7 linked regions of the Homo sapiens genome follow. The protein of the gene in region 6 purifies or fractionates together with the protein of the main gene of each other region. This does not show direct contact. Each region holds a gene or a part of one and is shown on either strand. Other genes may lie near its edges.

Region 1 (4,148 bases), on a different chromosome or scaffold from region 6:
TCATAACGGTTGCCCCATATCCAGTCCTCATTTTGCCTTTTTATTTTACTTATTTTTTTTTTAGACGGAGTCTCACTCGGTCACACAGGCTGGAATGCAGTGGCTGATCTCGGCTCACTGCAACCTTCGCCTCCTGGCTTCAAGCGATTCTCCTGCCTCAGCCTCCCGAGTAGCTGGGATTACAGGCGTCCACCATCATACCCGCTAATTTTTTTTTGTATTTTTAGTAGAGATGGGGTTTCACCATGTTGGCCAGGCTGGTGTGGAACTCCTGACCTCAGATGATCCGCCCGCCTCGGCCTCCCAAAGTGCTGGGATTATGGGTGTGAGCCACCGCGCCCGGCTTTGCTTTGCTTTTTTGCAATAGAACACACCCCTCCAACCCTGCGTGTCCGGAGTGGCCACAGGCTGCCCAGCCAAAGGCTACATTTCCCAGTGTGCGCTGCCAGGAGGGCCACGTGACTAAGTTCTCCCTCCAGGAATGAGAGTGATCATGAGGTGTGCAGCTACTGGGACATCCTCCCACCCTCTTCCCCGTCACAGTGGCTGGAACATGGATGTAGTGGGAGAGCCAACCACAAGGACAGGGACAACACTGGGCTCCCCAACAACCTTCCAGAGCAAAGCTGTCTGCCAACCCTGCACACTTGCCTATCTTCCAAAGCGTTATGTGGAGAAATCAATTTGTATCTTTCTTGGGCCACTGTGTTTTGGGGGCTCCTTGGTACAACAGCTTAGACCTGAAATAAGCATGGAAAAATTCTGAACTGATGGAGTATATGTTAGAAATGTTCAGGGAGGTTCATAACAGACACTCAGCATTAGAGAGGGGCCAGCTCCTGACAGACATGCAACACGGATGAATCTTGAAAGCAGGCTGTGCAGAAGGCAAAGTGCACACTGGGGGAATGAGGAGTGACTGCTTACGGAGTATGGGGTTTTCTGTAGGGGTGATGAAATGTTTTGAAACTAGACAGAGGTAATGGTTGTACAACACTGTGAACGTACCAACTGAATTCTTTGCTTTATTATTACTTTCTCTCTTTATTGAGACAGGATCTCACTCTGTTGCCCAGGCTAGAGTGCAGTGGCATGATCTCAGCTCACTGCAGCCTTGACCTCCCGGGCTCAGGTGATCCTCCCACCTTGGCCTCCTGAGTAGTTATGAAGACAGATGCGTGCCACCATGCCTAGCCAATTGTTTTTTGGTAAAGACGGGTTTTGCCATGTTGCTGAGGCTGGTCTGAAACCCCTGGGCTCAAGTGATCTGCCTGCCTTGGCCTCCCCAAAGTGCTGGGATTACAGGTATGAACCACCACGCCCAGCCATTGTTTGCTTTAAAATGGCTAATTTTACCTCCATAAAAATTGTACAATACCATTTAGACAAAGTTGTAGAATACACTAAAGTGATCTACAGCGCTAGAAATCAGACTAGTGGCTGCTCCTAGGGTAGGAGAGACTGGGAAGGGTATGAGGGGGTTTCTGGGGTGATAAAACACACTATACAGCTGACTGTACACTGGAGACCTGGGCATGGCACGCCATGTAAATGCCACCTCAATTATAAACATAAAAGTTTGGAGGCTCAATTCCACATCTAGGGACGTACACTGTAGATATATTATCACATAAGAAAAACTGCATTTATAAGGTTATTTCCGGAAGCATCGTTTGAAATCCCCAAGGACTGGAAACCACCTAACTGTCCTCCCCCAGGGGGCTATTTAAATATGTTAAGTCCGTTCAATGGAATACTATGCAACTGTGTAAAGGAATGAGGAAGCTCTTTGTGTACTGATAGGGAAGGTTCTCAAAGAGGCATTGTTCAGTAGATAAAGCAAGATGCACAGTGGTGCACTCACAATTTTATCTTTTGTGTTGAAAAACAATGTCTAAGAAAACGTTTACCCTGATTCTAGTCATTAAGAAACAAACAGCCTGGGTGCAGTGGCTCACGCCTGTAATCCCAGCATTTTGGGAGGCCAAGGAGGGTGGATCACTTGAGGTCAAGAGTTCCAGACCAGCCTGACCAACATGGTGAAACCCCATCTCTACTAAAATACAAAAATTAGCCAGGCGTGGTGGTGGGTGCCTGTAATACCAGCTACTTGGGAGGCTGAGGCAGGAGAATCACTTGAACCTGGGAGGCAGAGGTTGCAGTGAGCTGCGATCACGCCACTGCACTCCAGCCTGGGTGACAGAGCAAGACTCTGTCTCAAAACAAAACAAGAAAAAGAAACAAACGAATCCAAGGTGAGGGGTGACAACACTGGTCTGTAATCTTTAAAACTGTCGATGTCATGAAAAAGTAAGTTGCCTGGGCTAGGAGGCTCACGTCTGTAATCCCAACACTTTGGGAGGCTGAGGTGGGATGATCACTTGAGGCCAGGAGTTAGAAACTAGCCTAGGCAACATGGTGAGACTCCATTTCTACAAAAAATTAAAAATTAGTCAATCTCTACAAAAAATTAAAAATTACTTAAGCATGGTGGTGCATACCTACAGTCCCAGCTACTTGGGAGACTGAGGTGGGAGGATCACTTGAACCTGGGAGGTGAAGGCTGCAGTGAGCCATGACTGCACCACTGCAATACAGTCTGGGCAAGAGAGCAAGACATGTCTTAAAAAATGAAAAAGTTGCCATGACAATGTGTGTTATCCTAGGTTAGAACTTGGATTAAAAAAGTAAAATGATGGGCCAGGTGCAGTGGCTCACGCCTGTAATCCTAGCACTTTGGGAGGCTGAGGCAGGCCGATCACCTGAGGTCAGGAGATTAAGACCAGCCTGGCCAACGTGGTGAAAACCCCGTCTATACTAAAAAAAATACAAAAATTAGCTTGTCATGGTGGCGGGCGCCTATAATCCCAGCTACTTGGGAGGCTGAGGCAGGAGAATCGCTTGAACCTGGGAGGCGGAGGTTGCAGTGAGCCAAGATTGCGCCATTGCACTCCAGCCCGGGCAACAAGAGCGGGGGAGTGGGAAAAAAAAAGACCTCTCCCTCTCCCTCCCCCTCCCCCTCCCCCCTCTCAGTCTCCCTCTGATGCCGAGCTGAGGCTGGACTGTGCTGCCGCCATCTCGGCTCACGGCAACCTCCCTGCCTGATTCTCCTGCCTCAGCCTGCTGAGTGCCTGGGATTGCAGGCACGCACCGCCATGCCTGACTGGTTTTTGTATTTTTTGGTGGAGACGGGGTTTCGCCGTGTTGGCCGGGCTGGTCTCCAGCTCCTGACCGCGAGTGATCTGCCCGCCTGGGCCTCCCGAGGTGCCGGGATTGCAGACGGAGTCTCGCTCACTCAGTGCTCAATGGTGCCCAGGCTGGAGTGCAGTGGCGTGATCTCGGCTCGCTACAACCTCCACCTCCCAGCCGCCTGCCTTGGCCTCCCAAAGTGCCGAGATTGCAGCCTCTGCCCGGCCGCCACCCCGTCTGGGAAGTGAGGAGCATCTCTGCCTGGCCGCCCAGTCTGGGAAGTGAGGAGCGCCTCTTCCCAGCCGCCATCCCGTCTAGGAAGTGAGGAGCGTCTCTGCCCGGCTGCTCATCGTCTGAGATGTGGGGAGCGCCTCTGCCCCGACGCCCCGTCTGGGATGTGAGGAGCGCCTCTGCCTGGCCGCCACCCCGTCTGGGAGGTGTACCCAGCAGCTCATTGAGAACGGGCCATGATGACGATGGCGGTTTTGTCGAATAGAAAAGGGGGAAATGGGAAAGGAAAGAGAGATCAGATTGTTGCTGTGTCTGTGTAGAAAGAAGTAGACATAGGAGACTCCATTTTGTTCTGTACTAAGAAAAATTCTGCCTTGGGATGCTGTTAATCTACGGCCTTACCCCCAACCCCGTGCTCTCTGAAACATGTGCTGTGTCCACTCAGGGTTAAATGGATTAAGGGCGGTGCAAGATGTGCTTTGTTAAACAGATGCTTGAAGGCAGCATGCTCCTTAAGAGTCATCACCACTCCCTAATCTCAAGTACCCAGGGACACAAACACTGCGGAAGGCCGCAGGGCCCTCTGCCTAGGAAAACCAGAGACTTTTGTTCACTTGTTTATCTGCTGACCTTCCCTCCACTATTGTCCTATGACCCTGCCAAATCCCCCTCTCCAAGAAACACCCAAGAATGATCAATAAATACTAAAAAAAAAAAAAAAATAGTTC
Region 2 (4,148 bases), on a different chromosome or scaffold from region 6:
CTATTAGGTCCACTTGGTGCAGAGCTGAGTTCAATTCCTGTATATCCTTGTTGACTTTCTGTCTCGTTGATCTGTCTAACGTTGACAGTGGGGTGTTAAAGTCTCCCATTATTATTGTGTGGCTTTATGAATCTGGGTGCTTCTGTATTGGGTGCATATATATTTAGGATAGTTAGCTCTTCTTGTTGAAATGATCTCTTTACCATTATGTAATGGCCTTCTTCGTCTCTTTTGATCTTTGTTGGTTTAAAGTGTGTTTTATCAGAGACTAGGATTGCAACCCCTGCCTTTTTTTGTTTTTTCATTTGCTTGGTAGATCTTCCTCCATCCTTTTATTTTGAGCATATGTGTGTCTCTGCACGTGAGATGGGTTTCCTGAATACAGCACACTGATGGGTCTTGACTCTTTATCCGATTTGCCAGTCTGTGTCTTTGAATTGGAGCATTTAGCCCATTCACATTTAACGTTAATATTGTTATGTGTGAATTTGATCCTGTCATTATGATGTTAGCTGGTTATTTTGCTCGTTAGTTGATGCAGTTTCTTCCTAGCCTCGATGGTCTTTACAATTTGGCATGTTTTTGCAGTGGCTGGTACCTTTGTTCCTTTCCATGTTTAGTGCTTCCTTCAGGAGCTCTTTTAGGGCAGGCCTGGTGGTGACCAATCTCTCAGCATTTGCTTGTCTGTAAAGTATTTTATTTCTCCTTCACTTAGGAAGCTTAGTTTGGCTGGATATGAAATTCTGAGTTGAAAATTCTTTTCTTTAAGAATGTTGAATATTGGCCCCCACTCTCTTCTAGCTTGTAGAGTTTCTGCCGAGAGATCCGCTGTTAGTCTGATGGGCTTCCCTTTGTGGGTAACCCAACCTTTCTCTCTGGCTGCCCTTAACATTTTTTCCTTCATTTCAACTTTGGTGAATCTGACAATTATGCGTCTTGGAGTTGCTCTTCTCGAGCAGTATCTTTGTGGCGTTCTCTGTATTTCCTGAATGTGAATGTTGGCCTGCCTTGCTAGATTGGGGAAGTTCTCCTGGATAATATCCTGCAGCATGTTTTCCAACTTGGTTCCATTCTCCCCGTCACTTTCAGGTACACCAATCAGATGTAGATTTGGTCTTTTCACATAGTCCCATATTTCTTGGAGGTTTTGTTCGTTTCTTTTTATTCTTTTTTCTCTAAACTTCTCTTCTCGCTTCATTTCATTCATTTGATCTTCCATCACTGATACCCTTTCTTCCAGTTGATCGAATTGGCTATTGAGGCTTATGCGTTCGTCACATAGTTCTCGTGTCGTGGTTTTCAGCTCCATCAGGTCCTTTAAGGACTTCTCTGCATTGGTTATTCTAGTTAGCCATTCGTCTAATCTTTTTTCAAGGTTTTTATCTTCTTTGCCATGGGTTCGAACTTCCTCCTTTAGCTCGGAGTGGTTTGATCATCTGAAGCCTTCTTCTCTCAACTCGTCAAAGTCATTCTCTGTCCAGCTTTGTTCCATTGCTGGTGAGGAGCTGCATTCTTTTGGAGGAGGAGAGGTGCTCTGATTTTTAGAATTTTAAGTTTTTCTACTCTGTGTTTTCCTCATCTTTATGGTTTTATCTACCTTTGGTCTTTGATGATGGTGACGTACAGATAGGGTTTTGGTGTGGATGTCCTTTCTGTTTGTTTGTTTTCCTTCTAATAGTCAGGACCCTCAGCTGCAGGTCTGTTGGAGTTTGCTGGAGGTCCACTCCAGACCCTGTTTGCCTGGCTATCAGCAGTGGAGGCTGCAGAACAGTGGATATTGGTGAACAGCAAATGTTGCTGCCTGATCGTTCCTCTGGAAGTTTTGTCTCAGAGGAGTACCCGGCCGTGTGAGGTGTTAGTCTGCCCCTACAGTGCGGTGCCTCCCAGTTAGGCTACTCAGGGGTCAGGGACCCACTTGAGGAGGCAGTCTGTCTGTTCTCAGATCTCAAGCTGCATGCTGGGAGAACCACTACTCTCTTCAAAGCTGTCAGACAGGGACATTTAAGTCTGCAGAGGTTTCTGCTGCCTTTTGTTTGTCTGTGCCCTGTCCCCAGAGGTGGAGTCTACAGAGGCAGGCAGGCCTCCTTGAGCTGCGGTGGGCTCCACCCAGTTCGAGCTTCCCGGCCGCTTTGTTTGCCTACTCAAGCCTCGGCAATGGTGGGCGCCCCTCCCCCAGCCTTGCTGCCACCTTGCAATTTGATCTCAGACTGCTGTGCTAGCAATGAGCGAGGCTCTGTGGGCGTAGGACCCTCAGAGCCATGCGCGGGATATAATCTCCTGGTGTGCCGTTTGCTAAGACCATTGCAAAAGCGCATTATTAGGGTGGGAGTGACCCGATTTTCCAGGTGCTGTCTATCACCCCTTTCCTTGGCTAGGAAAGGGAATTCCCTGGCCCCTTGCGCTTCCCGGGCGAGGCGATGCCTCGCCCTGCTCGGTGTGCTGCAGCTACTGTCCTGCATCCACTGTCCAGCAATCCCCAGTGAGATGAACCCTGTACCTGAGTTGGAAATGCAGAAATCATTCGTCTTCTGCGTGGCTCACACTGGGAGGTGTAGACTGGAGCTGTTCCTATTTGGCCATCTTGGCTCCACCTCTGATAATTATTATTAACATAATGCTTTGGAATACTTTTTCTAAACAGGTAATTCTACATCTGTTTCTCTAACTTTACAAAGTTGGAGACATACTGTATATATATAGTGTCACCTGTTTTTTATCTTTTAACAGAATATCTTTAACATTTCTCTAGGTCATTCTTTTACTGTGAGCTTTATAATTTCCATCTGCACATCAAATATTTGAAGACTAAATTATCCCAATGCATTAAAAATGTAGAATATTGTAGAATATTTAATTGAAGTAAATGTAAAAGAAAAATACGTTCAACCAGGATTCCAAAGCTCATCTTAAGTTCAAAAACAAAGATTTTAATCTGTGCCAAGAAGATGGAGTTTCTCAAAGGTCAATGTGGGGAACAATTACAGTATTTCAGTTATTGGTATTGAAGGTAGGGAAACAAGTATGAATAGTCCCCAGGTCCGTAACTTGGGTTAACATCATCCACACAATGTAAGAACAAATGGGTTGTTTCTAATAGCTAAAAACTGAAAGTAATATGGTCCCCAGGAATGATGTTGTCTGTTCTCCACCCACTGGTTGTCTTTTAGAAAACTCTTAGGAAGGTGTGCAGGACTCTTACAGGTGGGTTTGGGTGTACGAGGGTAGCCCTTGGGGATATGGTGGCAGACAGAGCTGCAGAGCATGGGCTAGCTGTGGTTCCAGCTTGCCTTTCTCATGTGTGCACAGGGACTTCGCTATCCAGCTGGGCAGGGGAATGAGGGCTGTTAGTCTATGGAAGCATCTGCTTGTGATACAACCCTTTCTTAAGAAGGTGGCCTGCACTGAGTGTATCAGGAAGCACATCCATGGAGGTGGCACTGCCATGGCATATTGAGTCGTATTGAAATCTTTTGCTTTTACTGAAGTCCATCCAATTAGAATCTAGATCTGAGGGAATAGAAACTCTTCTGTTAGGCTTTAGCTTTAGTTTAACTTTTGGATGACAAATGCATGCATCATAGATCTCGGCAATACTAGCTGGTTTTTGTTATAGCCTCGGAATTACAAAAGGAAACCCTGAGACACTTGGACTTCTGTACCAAACAGCCAGGCATCCTTTGAGTAGTATTTAAAATGTCGCAAGACTAAGCATTTAGTTTATTCCCTCCCTGTCCCTGCATTTCCTTAAGCTCCCATCCCTCTACCTCCCTCATTGTTAAAATGATTTGGAAATCATGCTTTTATATCTCTTTTCTAGGAATTTGTTCATTTCATCTATGTTGTCTAATTTGTGAGTCGAAAGTTGCTTGTGATATATTCCTTTTATCTTTTTAATGTCTGTAATGTCTGTACTGATGTTGCCTCTTTGATTCCTGATATTGATAATTTGTGTCTTCTCTCTTTTCTGGGTAAGTCTGACCAGAGACTTATCTATTTTATTGATCTTTTTATTTTTATTTTTTCTCTCTTGCCTTTTTCTGTTTGAAATGTCATCAGTTTCTGCTCCTTATTATTCTCTTCCTTCTCTGCTTGTTTTGGATTTACTTTGCTTTTATTCTTCAATTTCTTAAGGTAGAAACCCAGATTAT
Region 3 (4,148 bases), on a different chromosome or scaffold from region 6:
AAGTTTTTAGGGACACTAGAATTAGCTGAGGAAATGAAGTCAATGTATTTATCTAACACTGTCACTTGCAGTGTGATATTCAGGCTGTTGGTTGTACAGCTTCAGCAAGAATCCATCCCTAGCTTGACAGAAAAGGTGAAGAAGAGGTGACTTATAAAGATATTTTCACTGTTCAATTATGTATATTTTGCAAGCCAAGGATGTGCTTCACACTGAGCTAAGTCCTCTGAGGGTAAAAAAGAAATCAGATACCATGTGGAAGAAGAAACGTCACCAATTAGTGGCTGCAAATGCCTAGAATAGGGATTTCAAATTCAATGCCTGCAGAGGCCAAGCAGGAATGGAAATATACTCAAAAGAGAAGAGAGAGAATAGCCTGAAAGGCACCTCTTCCAGGCTGGGAAATCTGAAAGGTGCATTGAATTGAGCATGCCTGACCAAAATGTTAACTGATTCTCCTTTCTATCCAATTGTCCCCATGCAGGAATACCGGCCTAGTGTTGCCAGATATTCTGATTTTTAAAAATTTGTGTATTTATCGAGGTCAGGAGATCGAGACCATCCTGGCTAACATGGTGAAACCCCGTCTTTATTAAAAATACAAAAAATTAGCCAGGCGTGGTGGCGGGCACCTGTAGTCCCAGCTATGCAGGAGGCTGAGGCAGGAGAATGGCATGAACCCGGGAGGCGGAACTTGCAGTGAGCCGAGATCTCGCCACTGGACTCCAGCCTGGGCAACAGAGCGAGACTGCGTCTCAAACAAAAACAAAATAAAATAAAAATACAAAAAAATTAGCCAGGTGTGGTGGCAGGCGCCTGTGGTCCCAGCTACTCGGGAGGCTGAGGCAGGAGAATGGCTTTGGACCCGGGAGGCGGAGCTTGCAGTGAGCCGAGATCACGCCACTGCACTCCAGCCTGGGCGACAGAGCAAGAGTCCGTATCAAAAAAAAAAAAAAAAAAAAAAATTGTGTATTTATTTATTTATTTATTTTGAGACGGAGGCTGTCTCTGTCGCCCAGGCTAAATTGCAGTGGCGCAATCTCGGCTCACTGCAACCTCCCCCTTGTGGGTTCAAGAGATTCTCCTGCCTCAGCCTCCCGAGTACTGGGACTATAGGCACGTGCCACCACACCCGGCTAATTTTTTTTTTTTTAGATGGAGTCTCGCACTGTCGTCCAGGCTGGAGTGCAGTCGCGCAATGTCTGCTCACTACAAGCTCCGCCTCCTGGGTTCACGCCATTCTCCTGCCTCAGCCTCCAGAGTAGCTGGGACTACAGGCGCCCACCACTTCACCCGGCTAATTTTTTGTACTTTTAGTGAAGACGGGGTTTCACCGTGTTAGCCAGGATGGTCTCAATCTCCTGACCTCGTGATCTGCCCGCCTTGGCCTCGCAAAATGCTGGGATTACAGGTGTGAGCTACTGCGCCTGGCCTTATTTTGAATTTTTTGTATATATTTTTTGAGGCAGAGGCTCACTCTATCGCCCAGTCTGGAGTGCAGTGGCAAGATCACAGCTCACTGCAGCCCTGACCTCTTGGGCTCAGCCTCCCAAGTAGCAAGGACTATGGACCCGCACCACCACACCCGAGTAATTTTTAAATATTTTGTAGGCCTGGTGTGGTGGCACATGCCTGTAATCCTAGCACTTTGGGAGGCCAAGGCGGGTGGATCACTTGAGATCAGGAGTTCGAGACCAGCCTGGCCAACATGGTGAAACCCCCTCTACACTAAAAATACAAAAATTAGCCGGGCGTGGTGGCGCACACCTGTAACAACAACTACTCAGGAGTCTGAGACAGGACTATCGCTTAAATCCAGGAGGCGGAGGTTACAGTGAGCCGAGATTGTGCCACCGCACTCTAGGTGGGTGACAGAGCCAGACTCCATCTCAAAAAAATTAAAATTAAAATTAAAATTAATATTTTGTAGAGACAGCGTTTTGCCATGTTGCCCAGGCTGGTCTCTCGAACTCTTGGCCTCAAGCAATCCTCCCTCATCTGCCTTCCAAAGTGATGGGGTGACAGGCGTGGGCCACCGCACCCAGCCATACTTTTTGTTTGTTTGGTTGGTTGGTTGGTTGGTTTTGAGACAGGGTCTTATCTTACTCTGTCATCCAGCCTGGAGTGCAGCAGTGCAATTACAGCTTGCTGCAGCCTTGACCTCCCAGACTCAAGTGATCCTCCAACCTCAGCCTCCTGAGTAGCTGGGACCACAGGCACACAACCACCATGCCCAGCTAATTTTTGTATTTTTGTAGAGACGGGGTTTCGCCATGTGCAGGCTGGTCTCGACCTCCCGGGCTCAGGCAGTCTTCCTAGCTCAGCCTCCCAAGTAGCTAGGAGTACAGGCACACATCACCATGCCTGGCTAACTTTTTGGTATTTTTTGTAGTGATGGGGTTTCTCCATTTTGGCCAGGCTGGTCTCAAACTCCTGGCCTCAAAGTGATTTGCGTGCCTCGGCCTTCCTAAGTGCTTGGATTATAGGCATGAGTTACCACACCCAGCCAAGACTACTCAAGAAGCCTCTACCAGGCATTTTTTCATTTGGCCTTGCCAGAGTGAATAACAAAGACAGTGGCAGCTTATTTGCCAGGTACACAGTTCCTAGTTGTAAATACTGTTAAAGAAATGGACATAACCCTTTTGTATGCTCTTGAGCAGAATTTGTGTGGCTTGAGCAGAATTGAGGCAGCTCAGCTGCTCCTCATTCTCCACTGATTCTTCACCCTATGACTGGCATGGCAGGCCTGCTTGGGGGCTGCAAGGACACGCTGGGTCTGGTTCCACCTTGTGCATCACTCCCAGTGCTGCTTTCCCCTTTGCTGAACCGCCTCTGCCTGGGGCTTCTGTCATTTCAGCTGGTCATTCAGGTTCCATACTTTAGGTTCTATCTGCCAGTCATTTGCACTTGATTTTAATTTTACTCAGCCAGCATCTGTTGAGTACCCAGCAAATGCCAGATACTGCCAAAATGTATTTTAGCCTTAAGGAACTTCAACTGAAAAGAGACGAAAGTGGAAACCTTACATTGTAATAAAAAGCAGAATGAAGTGCATGCCACCTCGTGGTACAGGTAATGGAAATTTGCTGTGAGATAATAGGAAGATGATCATTCATTCCAACTGGGGATGTTTCTTCAGGAGGAAGGTGATGATATTTGAACTGGGCTTTTTATACTCTTTGCTAGGAAGGACAGAGAAGAAAAAACAAATCTGACTTCATAATCTGCCTGTTTACCCAGACTCTAGTCCTTTTGCTAGTAAACTAAAAATAAAATACCCAGGAAAATCATCTCTTAAAAATATCCAGGGTCTGAAGGACAGATCTCATCCTCTCTTGTTTTTAACCTCTGCCGGGAGACCCAATTAGTCTGTTGGCATCACCACACCCAGATGAAGGCAGTGAGCAATCATTGGAAGCCTGAGCAAACAAGTTCTAGGAGTTCCCCCCTTGCCTGTCCGTGCCTTGCTCTCAGAGCCCTTGGGTTTGTAGGCAAATTGCCCCTCCTTCCCAGTCTTTCAGCTCACTTGACAGCTGCACCTTTTCCAGGCTCCTTGTTGTACTGCCCAGTCCAATGAGTTTGCACATTGTCTTCTGTTTTCACTCTCTTCTGTTGGCAAAGATTCCTGCTCCCTTAGAGAACTGGCTGCCCTGCTCTCCTCTCATACCACTTTCTCTGCCCTTCAACCACTTCTTTTTTTTTTTTTTTTTTTTTTTGAGGTGGAGTCTCACTCTGTCTCCCTGGCTAGAGTGCAGTGGTGCGATCTTGGCTCACTGCAACCTCCACCTCCTGGGTTCAAGTGATTCTCCTGCCTCAGCCTCCCTGAGTAGCTGGGATTACAGACGTGTAGCACACCTGGCTAATTTTTGTATTTGTAGTAAAGACAGTGTTTTGCCATGTTGGCCAGGCTGGCCTTGAACTCCCTGGCCTCATGTGATCTGCCCCGCTTCGGCCTCCCACAGTGCTGGGATTACAGGCGTGAGCCACCACACCTGGCTTCCTTCAACCACTTGCTTCCTCCACCAACCTCTGTCTTGCCAAAGGCAAGCACCAGATGGCCAGTCTCACTCCCCCTCTTCCTGCAGAAGAGCAGGAATAAGAGAGTCAAGGAGGGAAGCAGGCATGTTGCTGGGAAGCCTTTGGTG
Region 4 (4,148 bases), on a different chromosome or scaffold from region 6:
GGCATTTGGTTTCCTCCTATTTTGTTGAATTTTTGCATCAGTAGTTATAAGGGATATTAGCTTATACTTTTCTTGTAATATCCTTGGTTTGGTATCAGAGTAATACTAGCCTCTAAGAATGAGTGAGAATTTTTTTTTGTAAAGTTGGTAAAGTTTTTTTGTTGTTGTTTTTTTTGAGATGGAGTTTTACTCTTATCACCCAGGCTGGAGTGCAATGCTGCAATCTTGGCTCACTGCACCTCAGCTTTTTGGCCTTGATGCTTTCTGATAAGAAATCAGCTGTTAATCTTATTGAGGCTTTGTACATGAATTGCTTCTCTTTTGCTGGTTTCAATGTTTTTGATTCTGTAGTTTTGGCTTTCAACAGTTAGATTATAATATGTCTGGATCTTGGGATTTATTCCGTTTGGAGCTCATTGAACTTTTCAGATGTGTAGACTAATTATTCTATTGGATTTGGGAATTTCTTTGGCCATTATCTCTTTAAATATACTTTCTGCCTCTTTCCCTCTTCTCCTTCCTATTCTGCATTTGTTGGTATCCTTGATGATGTCCCACAGATCTCTAAAGATCTGTCAATTTTCATCTTCAGTCTCTCTTGTGTGTGTTATCTTCCTCAGACTGGATAATTCCAATTAACCTATCTTCAGCTTCACTGCTGCTTTATTATGTCTGCTTAAATCTGCTGTTAAGCCCCTTTAGTGAATTTTTGTTTCAGTTATTGTATTCTCCAATTCCAGAATTTGTATCTGGCTCCTTCCAATAACTGATATCTGTTCACTGATATTCTCTATTTAGTGTGACAGCATTGTTGCACTTTAGTTCTTTAGTCATGGTTTAGTTCTTTGACTATATTTAAAATCTTTGTCTAGTTCAACATCTGGTCTCCTCAGGGACTATTGCTATTGATTGCTTTTTTCACATATATATGTATATGTGTGTGTCACACTTTCTTTGCTTGTCTCACAATCTTTGTTGAAAACTAGTCATTTAAAATAGTGTGACAACTCTAGAAATCAGATTTTCCATTGCCCCAGGGTTTGCTGTTGTTGCTGGGTGTGCTCGTTTAGTAGTTTGAGCTAATTATCTAAAATCTGTATTTTTTTGTGATGTGTGGCTGCTGCAGTGTCTGCTTGGTTTGCTCAGTGGTCAACTAATAATTAGAGACTTATTTTAACACTTCGAACCACGAAGAAAAGAACACTCAATTTTTGCCAAGAAGCTCTGTGTTGGGGGCATGCGTTCACCACTCAGCCAGGCAGTTGACAATTCTGACGTAAGCCTTCACTTCCTGTTTGCACAGAGCTTCAAAGTCAGTGAGAGGGAAGAGCTGAGGGTCTTAGTTTTGTTGTTGTTGTTGTTGTTGTTGTTGTTGTTTTTAAGCATATGCATAGCCCTATACATGACATTCCCTTTCAAGTTTTTTTGTTAGCCTGTTGTTTATCCCAACTCTTATTCAACCTCTCAGGTAGCTGTGAAGTTAAACAACTTCCTCTGTTTTCAATGAACATTCTTAGGGAAAAGCCTTTTCATACTGACTAAGCTCTGAGTCAAAATAGTCTGTAAGTGGGATCTTTCAGGGAATGACCAGACAGATCAAATAATAATTTTCTGGGAATGAGGCTCCAAAGGAGGACCTACCTATTTTGCCTCTTCTGGTGGTTGGGAGGCTGTTGGTTTTTCACAATGATTGTGGACTGTTGGTTTTCAGGGTTACCATGGAGCTGAGGGTGGGTGGGAATAGGGCAAGTCAAAATGCCACAAAGCTCTCATGCTACTTACTGAGATTCAGCTGTCTTTCTTGGATAAACACTTCCTGGCTTGAATAAAACAATTGGCCGCAAGCCTTTGGTCAATTTCTACAGTGCTGAAAAAGTTGATTCTATTTTTGTCAGTTTTCTCTTTGCCTATGTGGAGGAGAGAATTTTTTGGATGTCCTTAGTCTGCCATTTTGTTTTGTATCCACTAGCACATTCTTACTGCACGGGATAAAAATGTTCTTGGGATCCAACTAATGATAGGAATTACTTCTCCCCTAAGCATGGGAAGGAACACACAGATCTGTGAGATCTGTGGACTATATTCTCCCCTCCCCAAATATAGAACAGCATGCAAGATGGGACATCCTGTTCAAGCCAGGCTGTTTTAATCAGATGGATGATGGCTAGAGTAGGTGATGTTTACAGCTCATTTTGGCAGACAGTCTGACCTGAATGTGTCTCTTCTTGCAGGTCAGCCTCACTCTGGGTGAAATAATCAAAGGTGTGAATAGCTCAGATCCAGTCCTATGTTTCCAGGCCACCCAGACAGCCAGGTATCTCCAAACAGACTTCTGCTGTTGCAGGTTCATAGTTAGCAATGAGCGTCAGTGATGGCTGGAGCGCCGGTGGCCTATTTGGTTTCTTGGCATTGGCAACATGCCCGTAAAACACAGGAAAAGGCTAGCCCATCTAAAAGACGAAATTGCTATTCTACACTGTCCTTGAGGGCAATTTAAAAGCTTCGATGTGTTGTCAGAGATGAATTGCTTAATTTACATTGGCCTCTACAGAAATTTCATCTTGTAGATAACACCTTAAAGGGGAAAATGTTGATTTAATACCGAAAAATGCTATCGGTTGAACACTAGGATCTTAAGTAGCTCCGGCCCAGCTATGTGGCTTATGTATAAAAGGAGGTTCTTTTTTTCTCTTTTGAGATGGAGTCTCACTCTGTCACCCAGGCTGGAGTGCAATGGTATGATCTTAGCTCACTGCAACCTCCGCCTACTGGGTTCAAGTGATTCTCCTGCCTCAAGCCTCCAGAGAAGCTGAGATTACAGGTGTGCACCACCACACCCAGCTAATTTTTATATTCTTAGTAGAGATGGGACGGGGTTTCACCATGTTGGCCAGGCTGGTCTCGAACTCCTGACCTTGCGACCTCAAGTGATCTGCCCGCCTTGGTCTCCCAAAGTGCTGAGATTACAGGTGTGAGCCACCGCACCTGGCCTAAAAGGAGGTCCTTAATACCTCTCTCACTTGACCTCCCCCTCCCCTGCCCTCTCTTTCATTGCATAGGAAAATGCTATCCCAGGAAAAGAACCCCCCTCTGAAACTGGTCATTGAAGCGGGCCTCATTCCCAGGATGGTGGAGTTCCTGAAGTCATCACTTTACCCCTGCTTGCAGTTTGAGGCTGCCTGGGCCCTGACCAACATCGCTTCAGGGACTTCGGAGCAGACTCGTGCCGTGGTAGAAGGGGGAGCCATCCAGCCCTTGATTGAGCTCCTGTCTTCCTCCAACGTGGCTGTGTGTGAACAGGCAGTGTGGGCTCTTGGTAATATAGCCGGTGAGACTCTCCCCTTAGTGGGCTAAGAAAACGGGGCCAGGTGTGTGGGATACTATAAGGTTTCTTTGGGTGGTGGGGTATACTCGATGTCCCAGAACACTTTGCCATGTAAATACCTAGAAGTGCTGGCAAGGGTACAATGAGCTGTTTCCAAACTCAAAGCCAGGCCAGGCACGGTGGCTCACGTCTGTAATCCCAGCATGTTGGGAGGCCAAGGCGGACGGATCACTTGAGGTCAGGAGTTCAAGACCAGCCTGGCCAACATGGTGAAACCCCGTCTCTACTAAATATACAAAAATTAGCCAGGCATGGTGGTGCATGCCCTGTAGTCCCAGCTACTCGGGAGGCTGAGGCAGGAGAATCGCTTGAACCTGGGAGGAGGAAGTTGCAGTGAACCAAGATAACGCCACTGTACTCCAGTGTGGGCAACAGAGGGAGATTCTGTCTCAAAACACCAAAAGCCCTCAAATCCAAGTTTAGAGGCCAAATATTGAAGCTGAAACAGGATGATACAGTGTATACTGAAGCCACAGGCTAACTAGAGACATCTGCCAACACTAAGGTCCTACAGCCTCAGGGCTTCGTGGCTTCAAGAACAAGTCTTTGGCTTATGCAGTGTGGGAGTTTATGATAGACCCTTACATAACTCGGGACCCCAGAAGGACTCTGCCTTCAGTGGAAGTTGCTAAGGGAACGTGCCAAAAACAAAAACAAAACAACAACAACAAAAAAAAACTCCTTGGTTTGGGCTAACAAGCCTTCCCTGAAAGTGGAATCCTCAGACTACCTTTCTGAATGTGGCAATCGATGCTCTTTCCTG
Region 5 (4,148 bases), on a different chromosome or scaffold from region 6:
GGGGGCCTCGGGCTGTCATTCCCCCCATCCCTGTTGTCACAGGCCTTAGGACTTACCAGGAATGCTTCATTAAATTCAAACAGGCAGGGGAACTGCTTAAGCAACTGATGAACAGAATCAAGCCACTGGAGGAACACAGGGCATTGTTCGTTTTGGTCCTCCACATTCTCTTGGTGGCCACAGCGATCTCCAAACTTGTGCCCAAAATCCAGCCAGTCAGACTCCACTAACACTTGGAAGCCCTGCAAAAAAAGAAACTGTTCAAACATAGGGCCTCTCTGGAAATGCTGATGTGCTACTCCCCTGGGAACTGCCCAAAGCAGGAAGCTGGCAGCTTCAAAGAAAAATAGGACTGGACCTAGAAGAGGACTCAAAGCCACCAATTTTCCAAGCCTTTGGGAGTTGGAAAAAAAAAGAAAAAAAGAGCCACCAATGTCCTCTACTGAAAGATCCCCAGGACAGATCCAGAGGGCTCAACACCTTCCCTCCTGCCACATTCCTTCTGGTTTTCCCACCGAATTCCTCTCAATACCTCCAACGTCCTGTAATATGGGTCCAGTAATATTTTGGCCAGGGCTACGATCTGCGGTGTGCGGTCCCAGCCATCTGAGCAGTGTACCAGCACAGGCCGGCCTTCCCGGTCTACTGTATTAGCCACCAGCACAGCTGCTTTTAGCATCACCGACAAGTGCTGCAGCCATTTGGTACTCTCCAGTGCCGACAACCAGCTACACAAAAGCAGACATCAAGTCGGTCACAAAGGGTGCTGAGGCCACAGCAGTCTCTCCACCATCCACAGCCAGCCCCACCCAACAAAGTCCCCATTGAGAACTGAAACCAAGAGGTACAACCCAGGGCCTTTTGGACAAGAGGTATCTAGCAGGAAGGTAGGGAAGACAGGACCTACAGCAGATAAAAGCATCTGAAGCTCAAAAGAGGAACTGAGAAGCATCACATGCACACTCAGCCATTTCCTCTCCCCAGTTCTCTGTGTTCTTTGAGTAGAACAACTGATCCAAACGAAAGGAATCCATGTCCTGTGACCACGCCAAAGTGTTGGCTGAGAAGTGGAAGGGTTCTTGGAACTAGCCCACGGCACCCAACTCCACCCAGGCCCTCAGGTCTCCTGCTCTCCAAACTTCTCATCTCCCCATCTAATCTTCCAAGAATAAGAGGTACTGGGTAAGGAATGAGACTGGAAGGAATCCAAGTAGGGAACACCTACTTGCTAGGATCCGGCATCTGGCTACACACAGCCCGGAGGTACTGAAAGCTGTTCCGGATGGCATGGATGTTGGCCATTCCCATGAACACGACCTCACAGTTGGGATAGTACTCTGTAGACATGACAGGAGAGTGGGACATAAAAGCACGTCCTAGGCCGGGCGCGGTGGCTCACACCTGTAATCCCAGCACTTTGGGAGGCTGAAGCGGTTGGATCACCTGAGGTCAGGAGTTCAAGAACAGCCTGACTAACACAGTGAAACCCCATCTCTACTAAAAATATAAAAATTAGCTGGCCATAGTGGTAGGCACTTGTAATCCCAGCTACTCGGGAGACTGAGGCAGGAGAATTGCTTGAACCTGGGAGATGGAGGTTGCAGTGAGCTGAGATGGCACATTGCACTCCAGCCTGGGCGACAGAGCGAGACTCCGTCTCAAAACAAACAAACAAACAAAAAAAGCACGTCCTGGAAACAGGCATCCAGGACAAGAGTGGTCCTGGTGGACAAAGCTTTCCTGGCAGGGCAGAGCACTCCAGGATAGGAACTAAATACAGTCTTGAAATCTGAATCACACTTGTATCTCTGGAGACTCAGGTGCCATATATTAATAATAGTAACAGTAATGACAAATGATAGCAGTACTTAGAAAGACAATATATAATCAATTCTCAATAAATAGTAGCTGCTCTGTGGCAATAATTTTATATATACAACTTCTTTTTCTTTTTTAAGACAGGGTCTCATGGTCACCCAGGCTAGAGGTGCAGTGGCATGATATCAGCTCACTGCAACCTCTGCGTCCCAGATGCAAGCGATTCTCATGCCTCAGCCTCCCAAGTGGCTGGGATGGGGCCACAGGCATGCACCATCATGCCCAGCTAATGGTTTGTATTTTTGATAGAGGCAGGGTTTCACCATGTTGCCCAGGCTGGTCTCAAACTCCTGAGCTCAAGCCATCCGCCTGCCTCTGCCTCCCAAAGTACTGGGATTACAGGCATGAGCCACTGGGCCCAGCCTACATATGCAACTTCTAATCATCCCAACAATTTTGCAAAGTGTGTAACATCCCCTTCTTATAGAAGAGAAAATAAAGCTTGGACAGATTAAGCAACTTCAGCATAGTCATAGCCATAGCTAGTAGGTAGCAAAGTTGTGATTACAAGCCAGGTTTGTTTGGGCTCTTTCCACTATACAAATGGCCCCCAACCCCCTCCTCACCAAAGCCACCCAGAGCACAGGCTGGCTGCAGACACTGGGATAACAGCAATACCTTCACATTCACAGCCTCCACCCTTGGCCCGGTTGGCCACTGCTGCCGTGTAGGATCGCGCATCCAGGATCAGCAGCTTTTGAGGAGCTGCTGTGCTCTCCACTCCAGAGCACGCAGTCAGAGAAGAATCTAAACACACAGCAGGAAGGAGTCCCTGAGTCAGCCAGCCACCCAACCTCTTGCTGGCCCTCTGGCACTCCCTCTCAGAAGGCAGAACATGCAACTAGAGACCCCTCATACCCCACAGCTTCTGACAAGGCAGGGACCCCAGCACCCCGTGTGTTGTCATCTTCCCAGACTCTCACTGGGGACTCCCTGGGAGCCAATGAAGCCAAGGAGGGGGCCTGCTCCCTGGGGGGTTAGCATCATCCACACCTTACCAAAGTCAGCATCACACGCCTCGCTGGTATCATTATTCCCGGTGCTGAGGGAGCCCCCAGTGGCCCTTGTCCCCGGGTCCAGGGCACAGGCTTTAGCAATGGACGTGACCAGGTACTCATCATCAGCATTGCGCCAGCCCCACCAGCTGATCTCTGGCTGGCTGCAGCGGGCGATGGCAGCCCCATTGCGCAAGTGTCTGACAAAACAGAAGAAACCGTAATGCCCTTGGCATTCGAAGCCTCCAGAGGCCTACCTCAGGGGGTTAGACCAAAGTCTCTAGAGCCAGCAGGGGCTACCAACTCATCCAGGCCATAACAGCAACCAAAAGCCCCAACGTCACTAGCAGGCTTCACCGTTTACAAAGCACCATCACACATACTTTCTCAAATGGGCTCTGTATGTCCAAGGTGACCTTGACTCATCAAATCTGCACAGCAACTGCTCCAGGTACAGACACCCAGCAGGAGAACAAGGCCTGGCTGAGCCAAGAATAGGAACAATTCCAAACTTCAGGGTTACTTCCTGTCTCACTCTATTTTAGCTACAATATTCTAGTGCAGGGATCAGCAAACATTTTCAGTAAAAAACCAGACAACAATTTTTGGCCTTGTGGGTCACAACCAGTTTCTGTCATGTATTCTTCTTTGCTTTTTTTAAAAATAGCCCTTTAAAAATGTAAAAACCACTCACAGCTTACAAGCCGTTTTATATAATAGGCTATAAGCCAGATTTTGTCTGCAGGCCAGTTTGCCAACCCCTGTACTAATGTGTGTATAAAATAATGTACTATTTTATACACACACACACACACACACACACACACACACACACTCTAAAAAAAGGGGGGGAATGAATAAACTCCCTAATAGCCTTATTCTTAGGAGAAAAAACTAAGATAGTTTTTGTTTTAAAGTTATTTCATACTTCCCCATAGAGTGTCAATTCTCAGTCAACCAGGTTACCCAAAATCTCCAATTTTGACTCTTTCCTTGTTGCATAAGAAATGGCCTCCCTACTTCCCAGCCCCACTGCCTCACCTATACACAACCACGGGAATCCGCTTCCAGGAGCGGAAGGAAGCCACGTTCTCCAGCTCTTTGTCAGTGATCCACACAGGAACCAGCAGCTTCTGGGGGTAACTGGGGCACAATCTGAGAAGAGACCAGGTGGGGGTCACTGCACTGGGTCTAAAACATGTGATGACAGGATCCCTGGGGATGGCTTTGTGGGAAGAGAAACCATGAGCCTTCCTCCCTCTCAGACTCAGAAGC
Region 6 (4,148 bases):
AGACAGAGTGGGACACTAAGTGAATAAAAGGGTCAATCCACCAAAAGGACACCACAATCCTAAATGTGTGCGCACAAGAGAGCTATAAATACGTGAAGTAAAAAGTGATAGAACTGGAAGGAGAAACAAACAAATCTATAATCAGAGTTGGGGTCTTCAATGTCCCTTTCTGAAGAGTTGAAAGTATTACTAGCCAGAAAAGCAGCAAGCAAACAGAACTCAACACCACCACCAACTCTCAGTATGTAAGTGACATTTCTAAAAAACTCTACCCAACAACAGCAGACTATGCATTTTTTTGACTGACTGCAAATGATACTGTATTTTAAATTTTGGTGTCCACGTATTTATGGCTAGCACGCAGAAATAATAAATATTGTTTGTTTTTATGCAGGTATAAATCTAACAAAAACAGAAAATTTATACACTGAAAACTGCACAATGCTGATGGACGAGAAAGGAATGAGCCATTGATACAAGCAAACATGGATGAATCTCCAAGAATTATGCAGAGCGAAAAAAAGCCAATCCCAAAAGGCTACATACTGTATAATTCCATTTCCATTTCCATAATATTGTTGAAATGAAATTACAGAAATGGAGCTCTCTAGTGGTTACCAGGCAGCAGACAAGTGGGTGTGGCTATAAAAGGGCAACAGAGGGATCCTTACAGTGCTGGAAATGTTCTGTATCTTTTTTTTTTTTTTTAAAGCAATACCCATGGGTTATTTTGGCAGTTTCTGAATGCATAAATGGAATAGACATATTCAGTTTCTGGCAGAACTTTCACAGTGATTTCTAACCTTTAGAGTGCCAACTGAAAAATCACATGATTTATAAATTTAGAAAGGAGACTTTCTTTTCTTTAGAGATAGTCTCAGTTGCCCAGGCTGGAATGCAGTTGTGTGCTCACAGCTCACTGCAGCCTCGACTTACTGGGCTCAGGTGATTCTCCCACCTCAGCCTCCCAAGTAGCTGGGACCATAGGTGTGCACCACCACACCTGGCTAATTTTTGTAGTTTTTGTAGAGACAGGGTTTTGCCATGTTGCCCAGGCTGGTCTCCAACTCCTGGGCTCAAGTGATCCGCCTGCCTTAGCCTCCCATCCTGACCGTGATATTATACTACAGGATTTTACCATTGGGGGAAGCTGGGCAAAGTATATAAGTGATCTCTCTATATTACTTCTTACAACTACATGTGAATCTGTAATTATCTCAAAAGAAAAACTTTAATTAAAAAAAAGCCATGGTCCTGGTGAGGAAACTTTTTGCGGGTAATGGAATTGTTCTCTATCATGGTGGGATGGTGGTTGCATCTTTATACATTTGTTAAATCTCATTGAATTGTACCACCTAGTGAATTGTGTAGACATTATGCCTCAATAAAGTAACAAAATTCCCACAGCCTGAGATTTCTTTGACCCTGCCACAATGCATGGTGGGGTCCTGTCCCCTCCCTTGTGGCTACTGGATGCTGAGGTACTCCAAGGCTGGTCGGGAGAGCCATGCAGTGGCTGCCCGGGTGACTGGAATATTCATGCTGGAAGCCTGAGCAGTCATGTTGTAAGGAAGTCACATTCAATGGAGAGACCCTGCAGGTGCTTGGCTCAGTAGTCCTGGTTTGGAGCCCTCCCAGCAGATGTCTGAGCCATGCTTCCAGTTCTTAGCCATTGAGTCCCCACCTGAGGGCCCAGATATCACAGATCAAAAAGATGTCATCCTCACTGGGCTCTGCCCAAATTCCTAACCTACAGAATCCATGAGCATAAGGAAAAGGTTGTTTTAAGCTGCTAGGTTCTGGAGTAATTTGTTAAACATCAGTAGGAACCAAAACAATTAAGTCTAGTTATTCTCCTTATTTTACAATGGCACACAGAGGTTAAGTCACTTGCCTACAGTCACAAAGCTGTTATAGCAGATACAAAATTTGAAACCCGTGACCTGAGCCACGATATTATAGCACCTGTAGATTAAGTATAATTATGGTTATTTTTATAGCGGACTCTCATCTTTGCTGGGGTCCAGCTCTAACATCCAACCTTTAAAAGACAAGTAAAAATGATTCTCGACCCCATGTCTCCTCTTTTCTTTACAGCAGAACTCTTTTTTTTTTTTTTTTTTTTTTGAGACGGAGTCTTGCTCTGTTGCCCAGGCTGGAGTGCAGTGGTGGATCTCAGCTCACTGCAGGCTCTGCTTCCTGGATTCACACCATCCTCCTGCCTCAGCCTTCTGAGTAGCTGGGACTACAGGCTCCTGCCACCATGCCCGGGAAATTTTTTGTATTTTTAGTAGAGATGGGGTTTCACCGTGTTAGCAGGATGGTCTCAATCTCCTGACCTCGTGATCCACCCACCTCGGCCTCCCAAAGTGCTGGGATTACAGGCGTGAGCCACCACGCCCGGCCTATAGCAGAACTCCTTAAAACAATTATTTATAACCTATTGTCTCTAAACCTCTTTGAATGTGCACCCTTATTAATAAAAATATTTCATTCTTTTCTTTTTAAGAGATGAGGTCCTGCTCTGTTGCCCAGGCTGGAGTGCAGTGATGTGATCATGGATCACTGCAGCCTCAACCAACCTCCTGGTCTCAAGGCATCCTCCCACTCTAGCCTCCCAAGTAGCCGGGCCTATGTGACCATGCTACCATGCCTGGCTAATTTTTATTTTATTTTTCTGTAGAGACAGTGTCTTGCTATGTTGTCCAGTCTGGTATAAATATTTCTTTTTTTTTTTTTTTTTTTGAGACAAGAGTATTGCTCTGTCGCCCAGGCTGGAGTGCAGTGGCGTGATCTTGGCCCACTACAACCTCCGCCTCCCAGGTTCAAGCAATTCTCCTGCCTCAGCCTCTCGAGTAGCTGGGATTACCGGCATCTGCCATTGCTCCTGGCTAATTTTTGTATTTAGTAGAGACAGGGTTTCTCCATGTTGGTCAGGCTGGTCTCAAACTCCTGACCTCAGGTGATTCACCCGCCTTGGCCTCCCAAAGTGTTGGGATTACAGGCTTGAGCCACCACACCAGGCTGGTAAAAATATTTCTAAGAATATACCTCTAAAAAGCAGCCGGGCACGGTGGCTCACGCCTGTAATCCCAGCACTTTGGGAGGCCAAGGTGGGAGGATCATGAGGTCAGGAGATCGAGACCATCCTGGCTAACACGGTGAAACCCCGTCTCTACTAAAAATATAAAAAATTAGCTGGGCGTGGTGGCAGGCACCTGTAGTCCCAGCTACTTGGGAGTCTGAGGCAGGAGAATGGCATGAACCCAGGAGCTTGCAGTGAGCCGAGATCGTACCACTGCACTCCAGCCTGGGCGACAGAGCGAGACTCCGTCTCAAAAAAATATATATATACCTCTAATATACACATACTTAGTTATAAATCATGCACAGGTTTTAATTATATAAAAAGTATTCTTCTCAAGAATGCTTAATGTTATTAAAATCAACGCTCTAGACCTAATTTACAGATCATAGAAAATGCAGGGATAGAGAAGCAAGTTAAAGTACTCCATGAAGAAACAAGTAGTAGTAAATATTAGAAAAGAGAACTGGCCTTCAATGTCATTAAAAACAAAAGAAAAAAAAGAGGTAAGGTATGGTTCTAGGTTAAGACAGTAAAGAGGAATAGCTAAATGTCTTAATCTTGATTGGAGAATAGTTCAGAAATAAAAATAGCTGCAAAATATATTTTGAGGACAATTAAAGAGACCTGAATATGGGCTGAATATTACATGATATTAGGATATTATTAATTTCTTATGTATGACAATGGCATTGTGTTTATGGGGAAGAATGTCCTTATTCTTAGGAGCTGCTTATGAAAGAATGTGTAGAATATCATGGTTTCTGGCTGGCTGTGGCAGTGCATGCCTGTAATCCTAGCTACTTGGGAGGCTGAGGCAGGCGAATCGCTTGAACCCAGAAGACAGAGGTTGAAGGGAGCCGAGATCGTGCCACTGCACCCCAGCCTCAGTGACAGAGTGAGACTCCATCTCAAGAAAAAACAAAATAAAAAATAAAAAAGAATATCAGTTTCTGCAATCTATTCTCAAATAATACAGAAAAAAGAATACACAGAAAGAAAGCAAATGTGGCAAATGTGAAAAACTGTTTTTGTTTTTTTTGAGACAGGTTCTCTTCATGTT
Region 7 (3,840 bases), on a different chromosome or scaffold from region 6:
GCCTCAGCCTCCCAAAGTGCTGAGATTACATGAGTGAGCCACTGCGCCTGACCTCATGTAATTTCTTGAGTGGTCATTTAGTCATTATACAAACAGTGATTGAAGGGCATGTGCCCAGCACTGCAGACTCTGCTGCACAGTCAGATGACCCTGCCTTTCTGGCATTTCCATGCCAGTACCCTGAAGAGATACCATATATGTACCTGGTGCTTGCAATAGCTGGCACTCAGAGGTAGCACACTGTGTCCTAGCCACTCTTCCGAGCACTTAAGCATATTCAGTTACTCTTCAAGTACATATGAATAAGTATGCCTTTGCCCCCTCCTCTTTGCAAGGGATAGCGTGTGGCCACCCTGGTCTGCAGCTAGCTTAGCAGATTTGACCACATATTGTAAAAGTGAGTCTGTACCAGGACAGATAGGGTAGAGGGCTCTGTGTGGTTTAGCACCATGGTAGATTCCATCGTGCGGATGTCCCTCCAGCAGGGGAGGTCTTTGGGGCCAGGGCTAGGCCAGCACCCACATTTGCCGCCTGACCCCGTCCCTCCGTCTCTGTCTCTCCATTCCTCCCTGCCCCTCGTGCAGCCGCTGCCATGGCCCAGACACTGCAGATGGAGATCCCGAACTTCGGCAACAGCATCCTGGAGTGCCTCAATGAACAGCGGCTGCAGGGCCTGTACTGTGACGTGTCAGTGGTGGTCAAGGGCCATGCCTTCAAGGCCCACCGGGCCGTGCTTGCTGCCAGCAGCTCCTACTTCCGGGACCTGTTCAACAACAGCCGCAGCGCCGTGGTGGAGCTGCCGGCGGCTGTGCAGCCCCAGTCTTTCCAGCAGATCCTCAGCTTCTGCTACACGGGCCGGCTGAGCATGAACGTGGGCGACCAGTTCCTGCTCATGTACACGGCTGGCTTCCTGCAGATCCAGGAGATCATGGAGAAGGGCACCGAGTTCTTCCTCAAGGTGAGCTCCCCGAGCTGCGACTCCCAGGGCCTGCATGCGGAGGAGGCCCCATCGTCGGAGCCCCAGAGCCCCGTGGCGCAGACATCGGGCTGGCCAGCCTGTAGCACCCCGCTGCCCCTCGTGTCGCGGGTGAAGACGGAGCAGCAGGAGTCGGACTCCGTGCAGTGCATGCCCGTGGCCAAGCGGCTGTGGGACAGTGGCCAGAAGGAGGCTGGGGGCGGCGGCAATGGCAGCCGCAAGATGGCCAAGTTCTCCACGCCGGACCTGGCTGCCAACCGGCCTCACCAGCCCCCGCCACCCCAACAGGCTCCGGTGGTGGCAGCAGCCCAGCCCGCCGTGGCTGCGGGAGCAGGGCAGCCAGCCGGTGGGGTGGCAGCAGCAGGGGGTGTGGTGAGTGGGCCCAGCACGTCGGAGCGGACCAGCCCAGGCACCTCAAGCGCCTACACCAGCGACAGCCCTGGCTCCTACCACAATGAGGAGGACGAGGAGGAGGATGGTGGCGAGGAGGGCATGGATGAGCAGTACCGGCAGATCTGCAACATGTACACCATGTACAGCATGATGAACGTCGGCCAGACAGGTGAGGTGCCGTCCTGTCCCCCATCCCACCAGCCACCCCTGCTCCTCCTGCCACTCGCGTGCCACTCTCTCCCTGCAGCCGAGAAGGTGGAGGCCCTCCCGGAGCAGGTAGCCCCCGAGTCCCGAAATCGCATCCGGGTTCGGCAAGACCTGGCGTCTCTCCCGGCTGAACTTATCAACCAGATTGGGAACCGCTGCCACCCCAAGCTCTACGACGAGGGCGACCCCTCTGAGAAGCTGGAGCTGGTGACAGGTGGGCCGGTCTCGCCCCAGATCTCTCCCCTCCGCAGCTTTGGAGCCGGCTGGCCTGGGCTGGGCTGGGCAGCTGGTTAGGAGCCCCCAGCACCTCAGTTTCCCTATCTGTGCTGTAGTGTTGGTAACAGCCACCCTAAGGGTGGGGGCGTTGGTGAGATGGAGGAGCTGATACAGCAAGGCCTGGCCTCTAGGTTTCTGGCTTAAGGGGTCGGGGCGAGCATTGGCTATTATTGTTTGGCCGCATGGGTAGATTAGCTACTTCCCGGGCTCCTGTGAAGGCCAGCTACTACCTAGGTTAGGAATTTGGACAGTCACAGGGGCGAATGCCTGTAGTCCTAGCTACTCAGGAGGCTGAGGTGGGAGGATCCCTTGAGCCCAGGAGGTCAAGGCTGCAGTGAGCTGTGGTGGCCACTGCACTCCAGCCTGGGTGACAGAGTGAGACTTCATCTCTTAAAAAAAGAAGAAGAAGACTGTGTTTGGTCCTTGGGTCAGAGTGCCTAGGTGTGAGCCTCCACTCCCTGTTGGTCCTGCTGAGCTTGGGCTCATCTCTAGCTGGTGACAGCCAGCGTGCCCACCTCACACAGGCTTGCGGCACGACTGGCCACACAGCAGGCACCCCGAGGATGGTGAAGCAACCCTTTCTGTCCTTTCCTGAGCACTGATGAGGTTGGGGGAGCCCCAAGGAGCCTCCCCTGACTGCCCTTGGTGGGTAGAGATGTAGGGGAGAAGGTCCCTGGGTGAGTTTTCTTGGGACCCAGAGCCCAGCAGGGAGGGCCTGGGGTGTTCTGAGATGAGGCCTGGTATCATGGGGGCTGTGGCGGTTTGGGGGCACCCCAGGCCATCCTCCGGCTTCCTCTCACCAGGCACCAACGTGTACATCACAAGGGCGCAGCTGATGAACTGCCACGTCAGCGCAGGCACGCGGCACAAGGTCCTACTGCGGCGGCTCCTGGCCTCCTTCTTTGACCGGTAAGGCCCTTGCCAGAGCCCCAGGGAGGGGGGTGGGGTTTCCCCATGTCCCCCCCACCACCAACTTGAGCGCTGACTCCCTCCATGTCCCCTGCCCCCAGGAACACGCTGGCCAACAGCTGCGGCACCGGCATCCGCTCTTCTACCAACGATCCCCGTCGGAAGCCCCTGGACAGCCGCGTGCTCCACGCTGTCAAGTGTGAGTGTTGGCCCAGCTGGACGAGGCGTGGGCCCGGGGCACGCAGGTTGACGTTTTTTCCCAGCCTTGGCTCTCAGAGAGGGCTAGAGTTCAGTGTTGAGAAGCATTCTGGGGCTCATTCTAGCCTTGCTGGGAAACCGGCTGTGATTGCTTAGAGATTTCTTCGTGTTTGGGGGATGCACGTGCCGAAGGGAAGCCAGGGAGCCTGTGTCAGGCAGGAGGGTCTCGAACTCAGGGCAGTCTGGGAGGGATGAGGCAGCCAGACAGTGCTAGCCACTCGTCATGGGGGGCATCTAGATTTTCAAGTGACCACTCCCCGTTACTAAATTCTGGCAAATGATCCGAATTTTTCAAGAACACGGGGCCATCCCATCAAAACCAACACATCCCCACACATGGCTGAACTCAGTCCGGTGTAGGGTTGGGTGCACGTAGTGTGGTGTCCTGGCCGCGTGGCCTCACTCGTTTCCCCTTTGAGAGGGAGTCGCAGATGCTGTAGGGGAGCTGGTGAGTAGGCCTTGTGGGAGTCACCTGGCCCCCGTGCCAAGGCCGCACCCACCCTGCCCCACAGACTACTGCCAGAACTTCGCCCCCAACTTCAAGGAGAGCGAGATGAATGCCATCGCGGCCGACATGTGCACCAACGCCCGCCGCGTCGTGCGCAAGAGCTGGATGCCCAAGGTCAAGGTGCTCAAGGCTGAGGATGACGCCTACACCACCTTCATCAGTGAAACGGGCAAGATCGAGCCGGACATGATGGGTGTGGAGCATGGCTTCGAGACCGCCAGCCACGAGGGCGAGGCGGGTCCCTCGGCTGAAGCCCTGCAGTAACCCGCCCAGCCTCCCGCGGGGCCACACACTTCCCCTCCCAACACACACA

Evidence for each region.
Region 1: the proteins of CDC45 (region 6) and POLD1 purify together in Homo sapiens (pull-down; one study listed by IntAct). This does not show direct contact.
Region 2: the proteins of CDC45 (region 6) and DTD1 purify together in Homo sapiens (affinity purification with western blotting; one study listed by BioGRID). This does not show direct contact.
Region 3: the proteins of CDC45 (region 6) and ACTR1A fractionate together in Homo sapiens (co-fractionation; one large-scale study listed by BioGRID). This does not show direct contact.
Region 4: the proteins of CDC45 (region 6) and KPNA7 purify together in Homo sapiens (co-immunoprecipitation; one large-scale study listed by IntAct). This does not show direct contact.
Region 5: the proteins of CDC45 (region 6) and MTMR4 purify together in Homo sapiens (affinity purification with mass spectrometry; one large-scale study listed by BioGRID and IntAct). This does not show direct contact.
Region 7: the proteins of CDC45 (region 6) and NACC1 purify together in Homo sapiens (affinity purification with mass spectrometry; one large-scale study listed by BioGRID and IntAct). This does not show direct contact.

Annotation. Positions count from the first base shown.
Region 1 is NC_000019.10:50,390,567-50,394,714, reverse strand, and holds part of POLD1 (DNA polymerase delta catalytic subunit), read right to left. Parts: intron 1-4,148. UniProt on the Homo sapiens protein: As the catalytic component of the trimeric (Pol-delta3 complex) and tetrameric DNA polymerase delta complexes (Pol-delta4 complex), plays a crucial role in high fidelity genome replication, including in lagging strand synthesis, and repair.
Region 2 is NC_000020.11:18,758,777-18,762,924, forward strand, and holds part of DTD1 (D-aminoacyl-tRNA deacylase 1), read left to right. Parts: intron 1-4,148. UniProt on the Homo sapiens protein: Possible ATPase involved in DNA replication, may facilitate loading of CDC45 onto pre-replication complexes. An aminoacyl-tRNA editing enzyme that deacylates mischarged D-aminoacyl-tRNAs.
Region 3 is NC_000010.11:102,492,573-102,496,720, reverse strand, and holds part of ACTR1A (alpha-centractin), read left to right. Parts: intron 1-4,148. UniProt on the Homo sapiens protein: Part of the ACTR1A/ACTB filament around which the dynactin complex is built. The dynactin multiprotein complex activates the molecular motor dynein for ultra-processive transport along microtubules.
Region 4 is NC_000007.14:99,194,250-99,198,397, reverse strand, and holds part of KPNA7 (importin subunit alpha-8), read left to right. Parts: intron 1-2,231; coding exon 2,232-2,314; intron 2,315-3,059; coding exon 3,060-3,328; intron 3,329-4,148. UniProt on the Homo sapiens protein: Functions in nuclear protein import.
Region 5 is NC_000017.11:58,504,247-58,508,394, forward strand, and holds part of MTMR4 (phosphatidylinositol-3,5-bisphosphate 3-phosphatase MTMR4), read right to left. Parts: intron 4,029-4,148; coding exon 3,915-4,028; intron 3,074-3,914; coding exon 2,877-3,073; intron 2,626-2,876; coding exon 2,497-2,625; intron 1,338-2,496; coding exon 1,226-1,337; intron 729-1,225; coding exon 533-728; intron 243-532; coding exon 57-242; intron 1-56. UniProt on the Homo sapiens protein: Lipid phosphatase that specifically dephosphorylates the D-3 position of phosphatidylinositol 3-phosphate and phosphatidylinositol 3,5-bisphosphate, generating phosphatidylinositol and phosphatidylinositol 5-phosphate.
Region 6 is NC_000022.11:19,485,890-19,490,037, reverse strand, and holds part of CDC45 (cell division control protein 45 homolog), read right to left. Parts: intron 1-4,148. UniProt on the Homo sapiens protein: Required for initiation of chromosomal DNA replication. Core component of CDC45-MCM-GINS (CMG) helicase, the molecular machine that unwinds template DNA during replication, and around which the replisome is built.
Region 7 is NC_000019.10:13,134,616-13,138,455, forward strand, and holds part of NACC1 (nucleus accumbens-associated protein 1), read left to right. Parts: intron 1-584; 5' UTR 585-592; coding exon 593-1,538; intron 1,539-1,616; coding exon 1,617-1,790; intron 1,791-2,655; coding exon 2,656-2,761; intron 2,762-2,862; coding exon 2,863-2,960; intron 2,961-3,531; coding exon 3,532-3,791; 3' UTR 3,792-3,840. UniProt on the Homo sapiens protein: Functions as a transcriptional repressor. Seems to function as a transcriptional corepressor in neuronal cells through recruitment of HDAC3 and HDAC4. Contributes to tumor progression, and tumor cell proliferation and survival.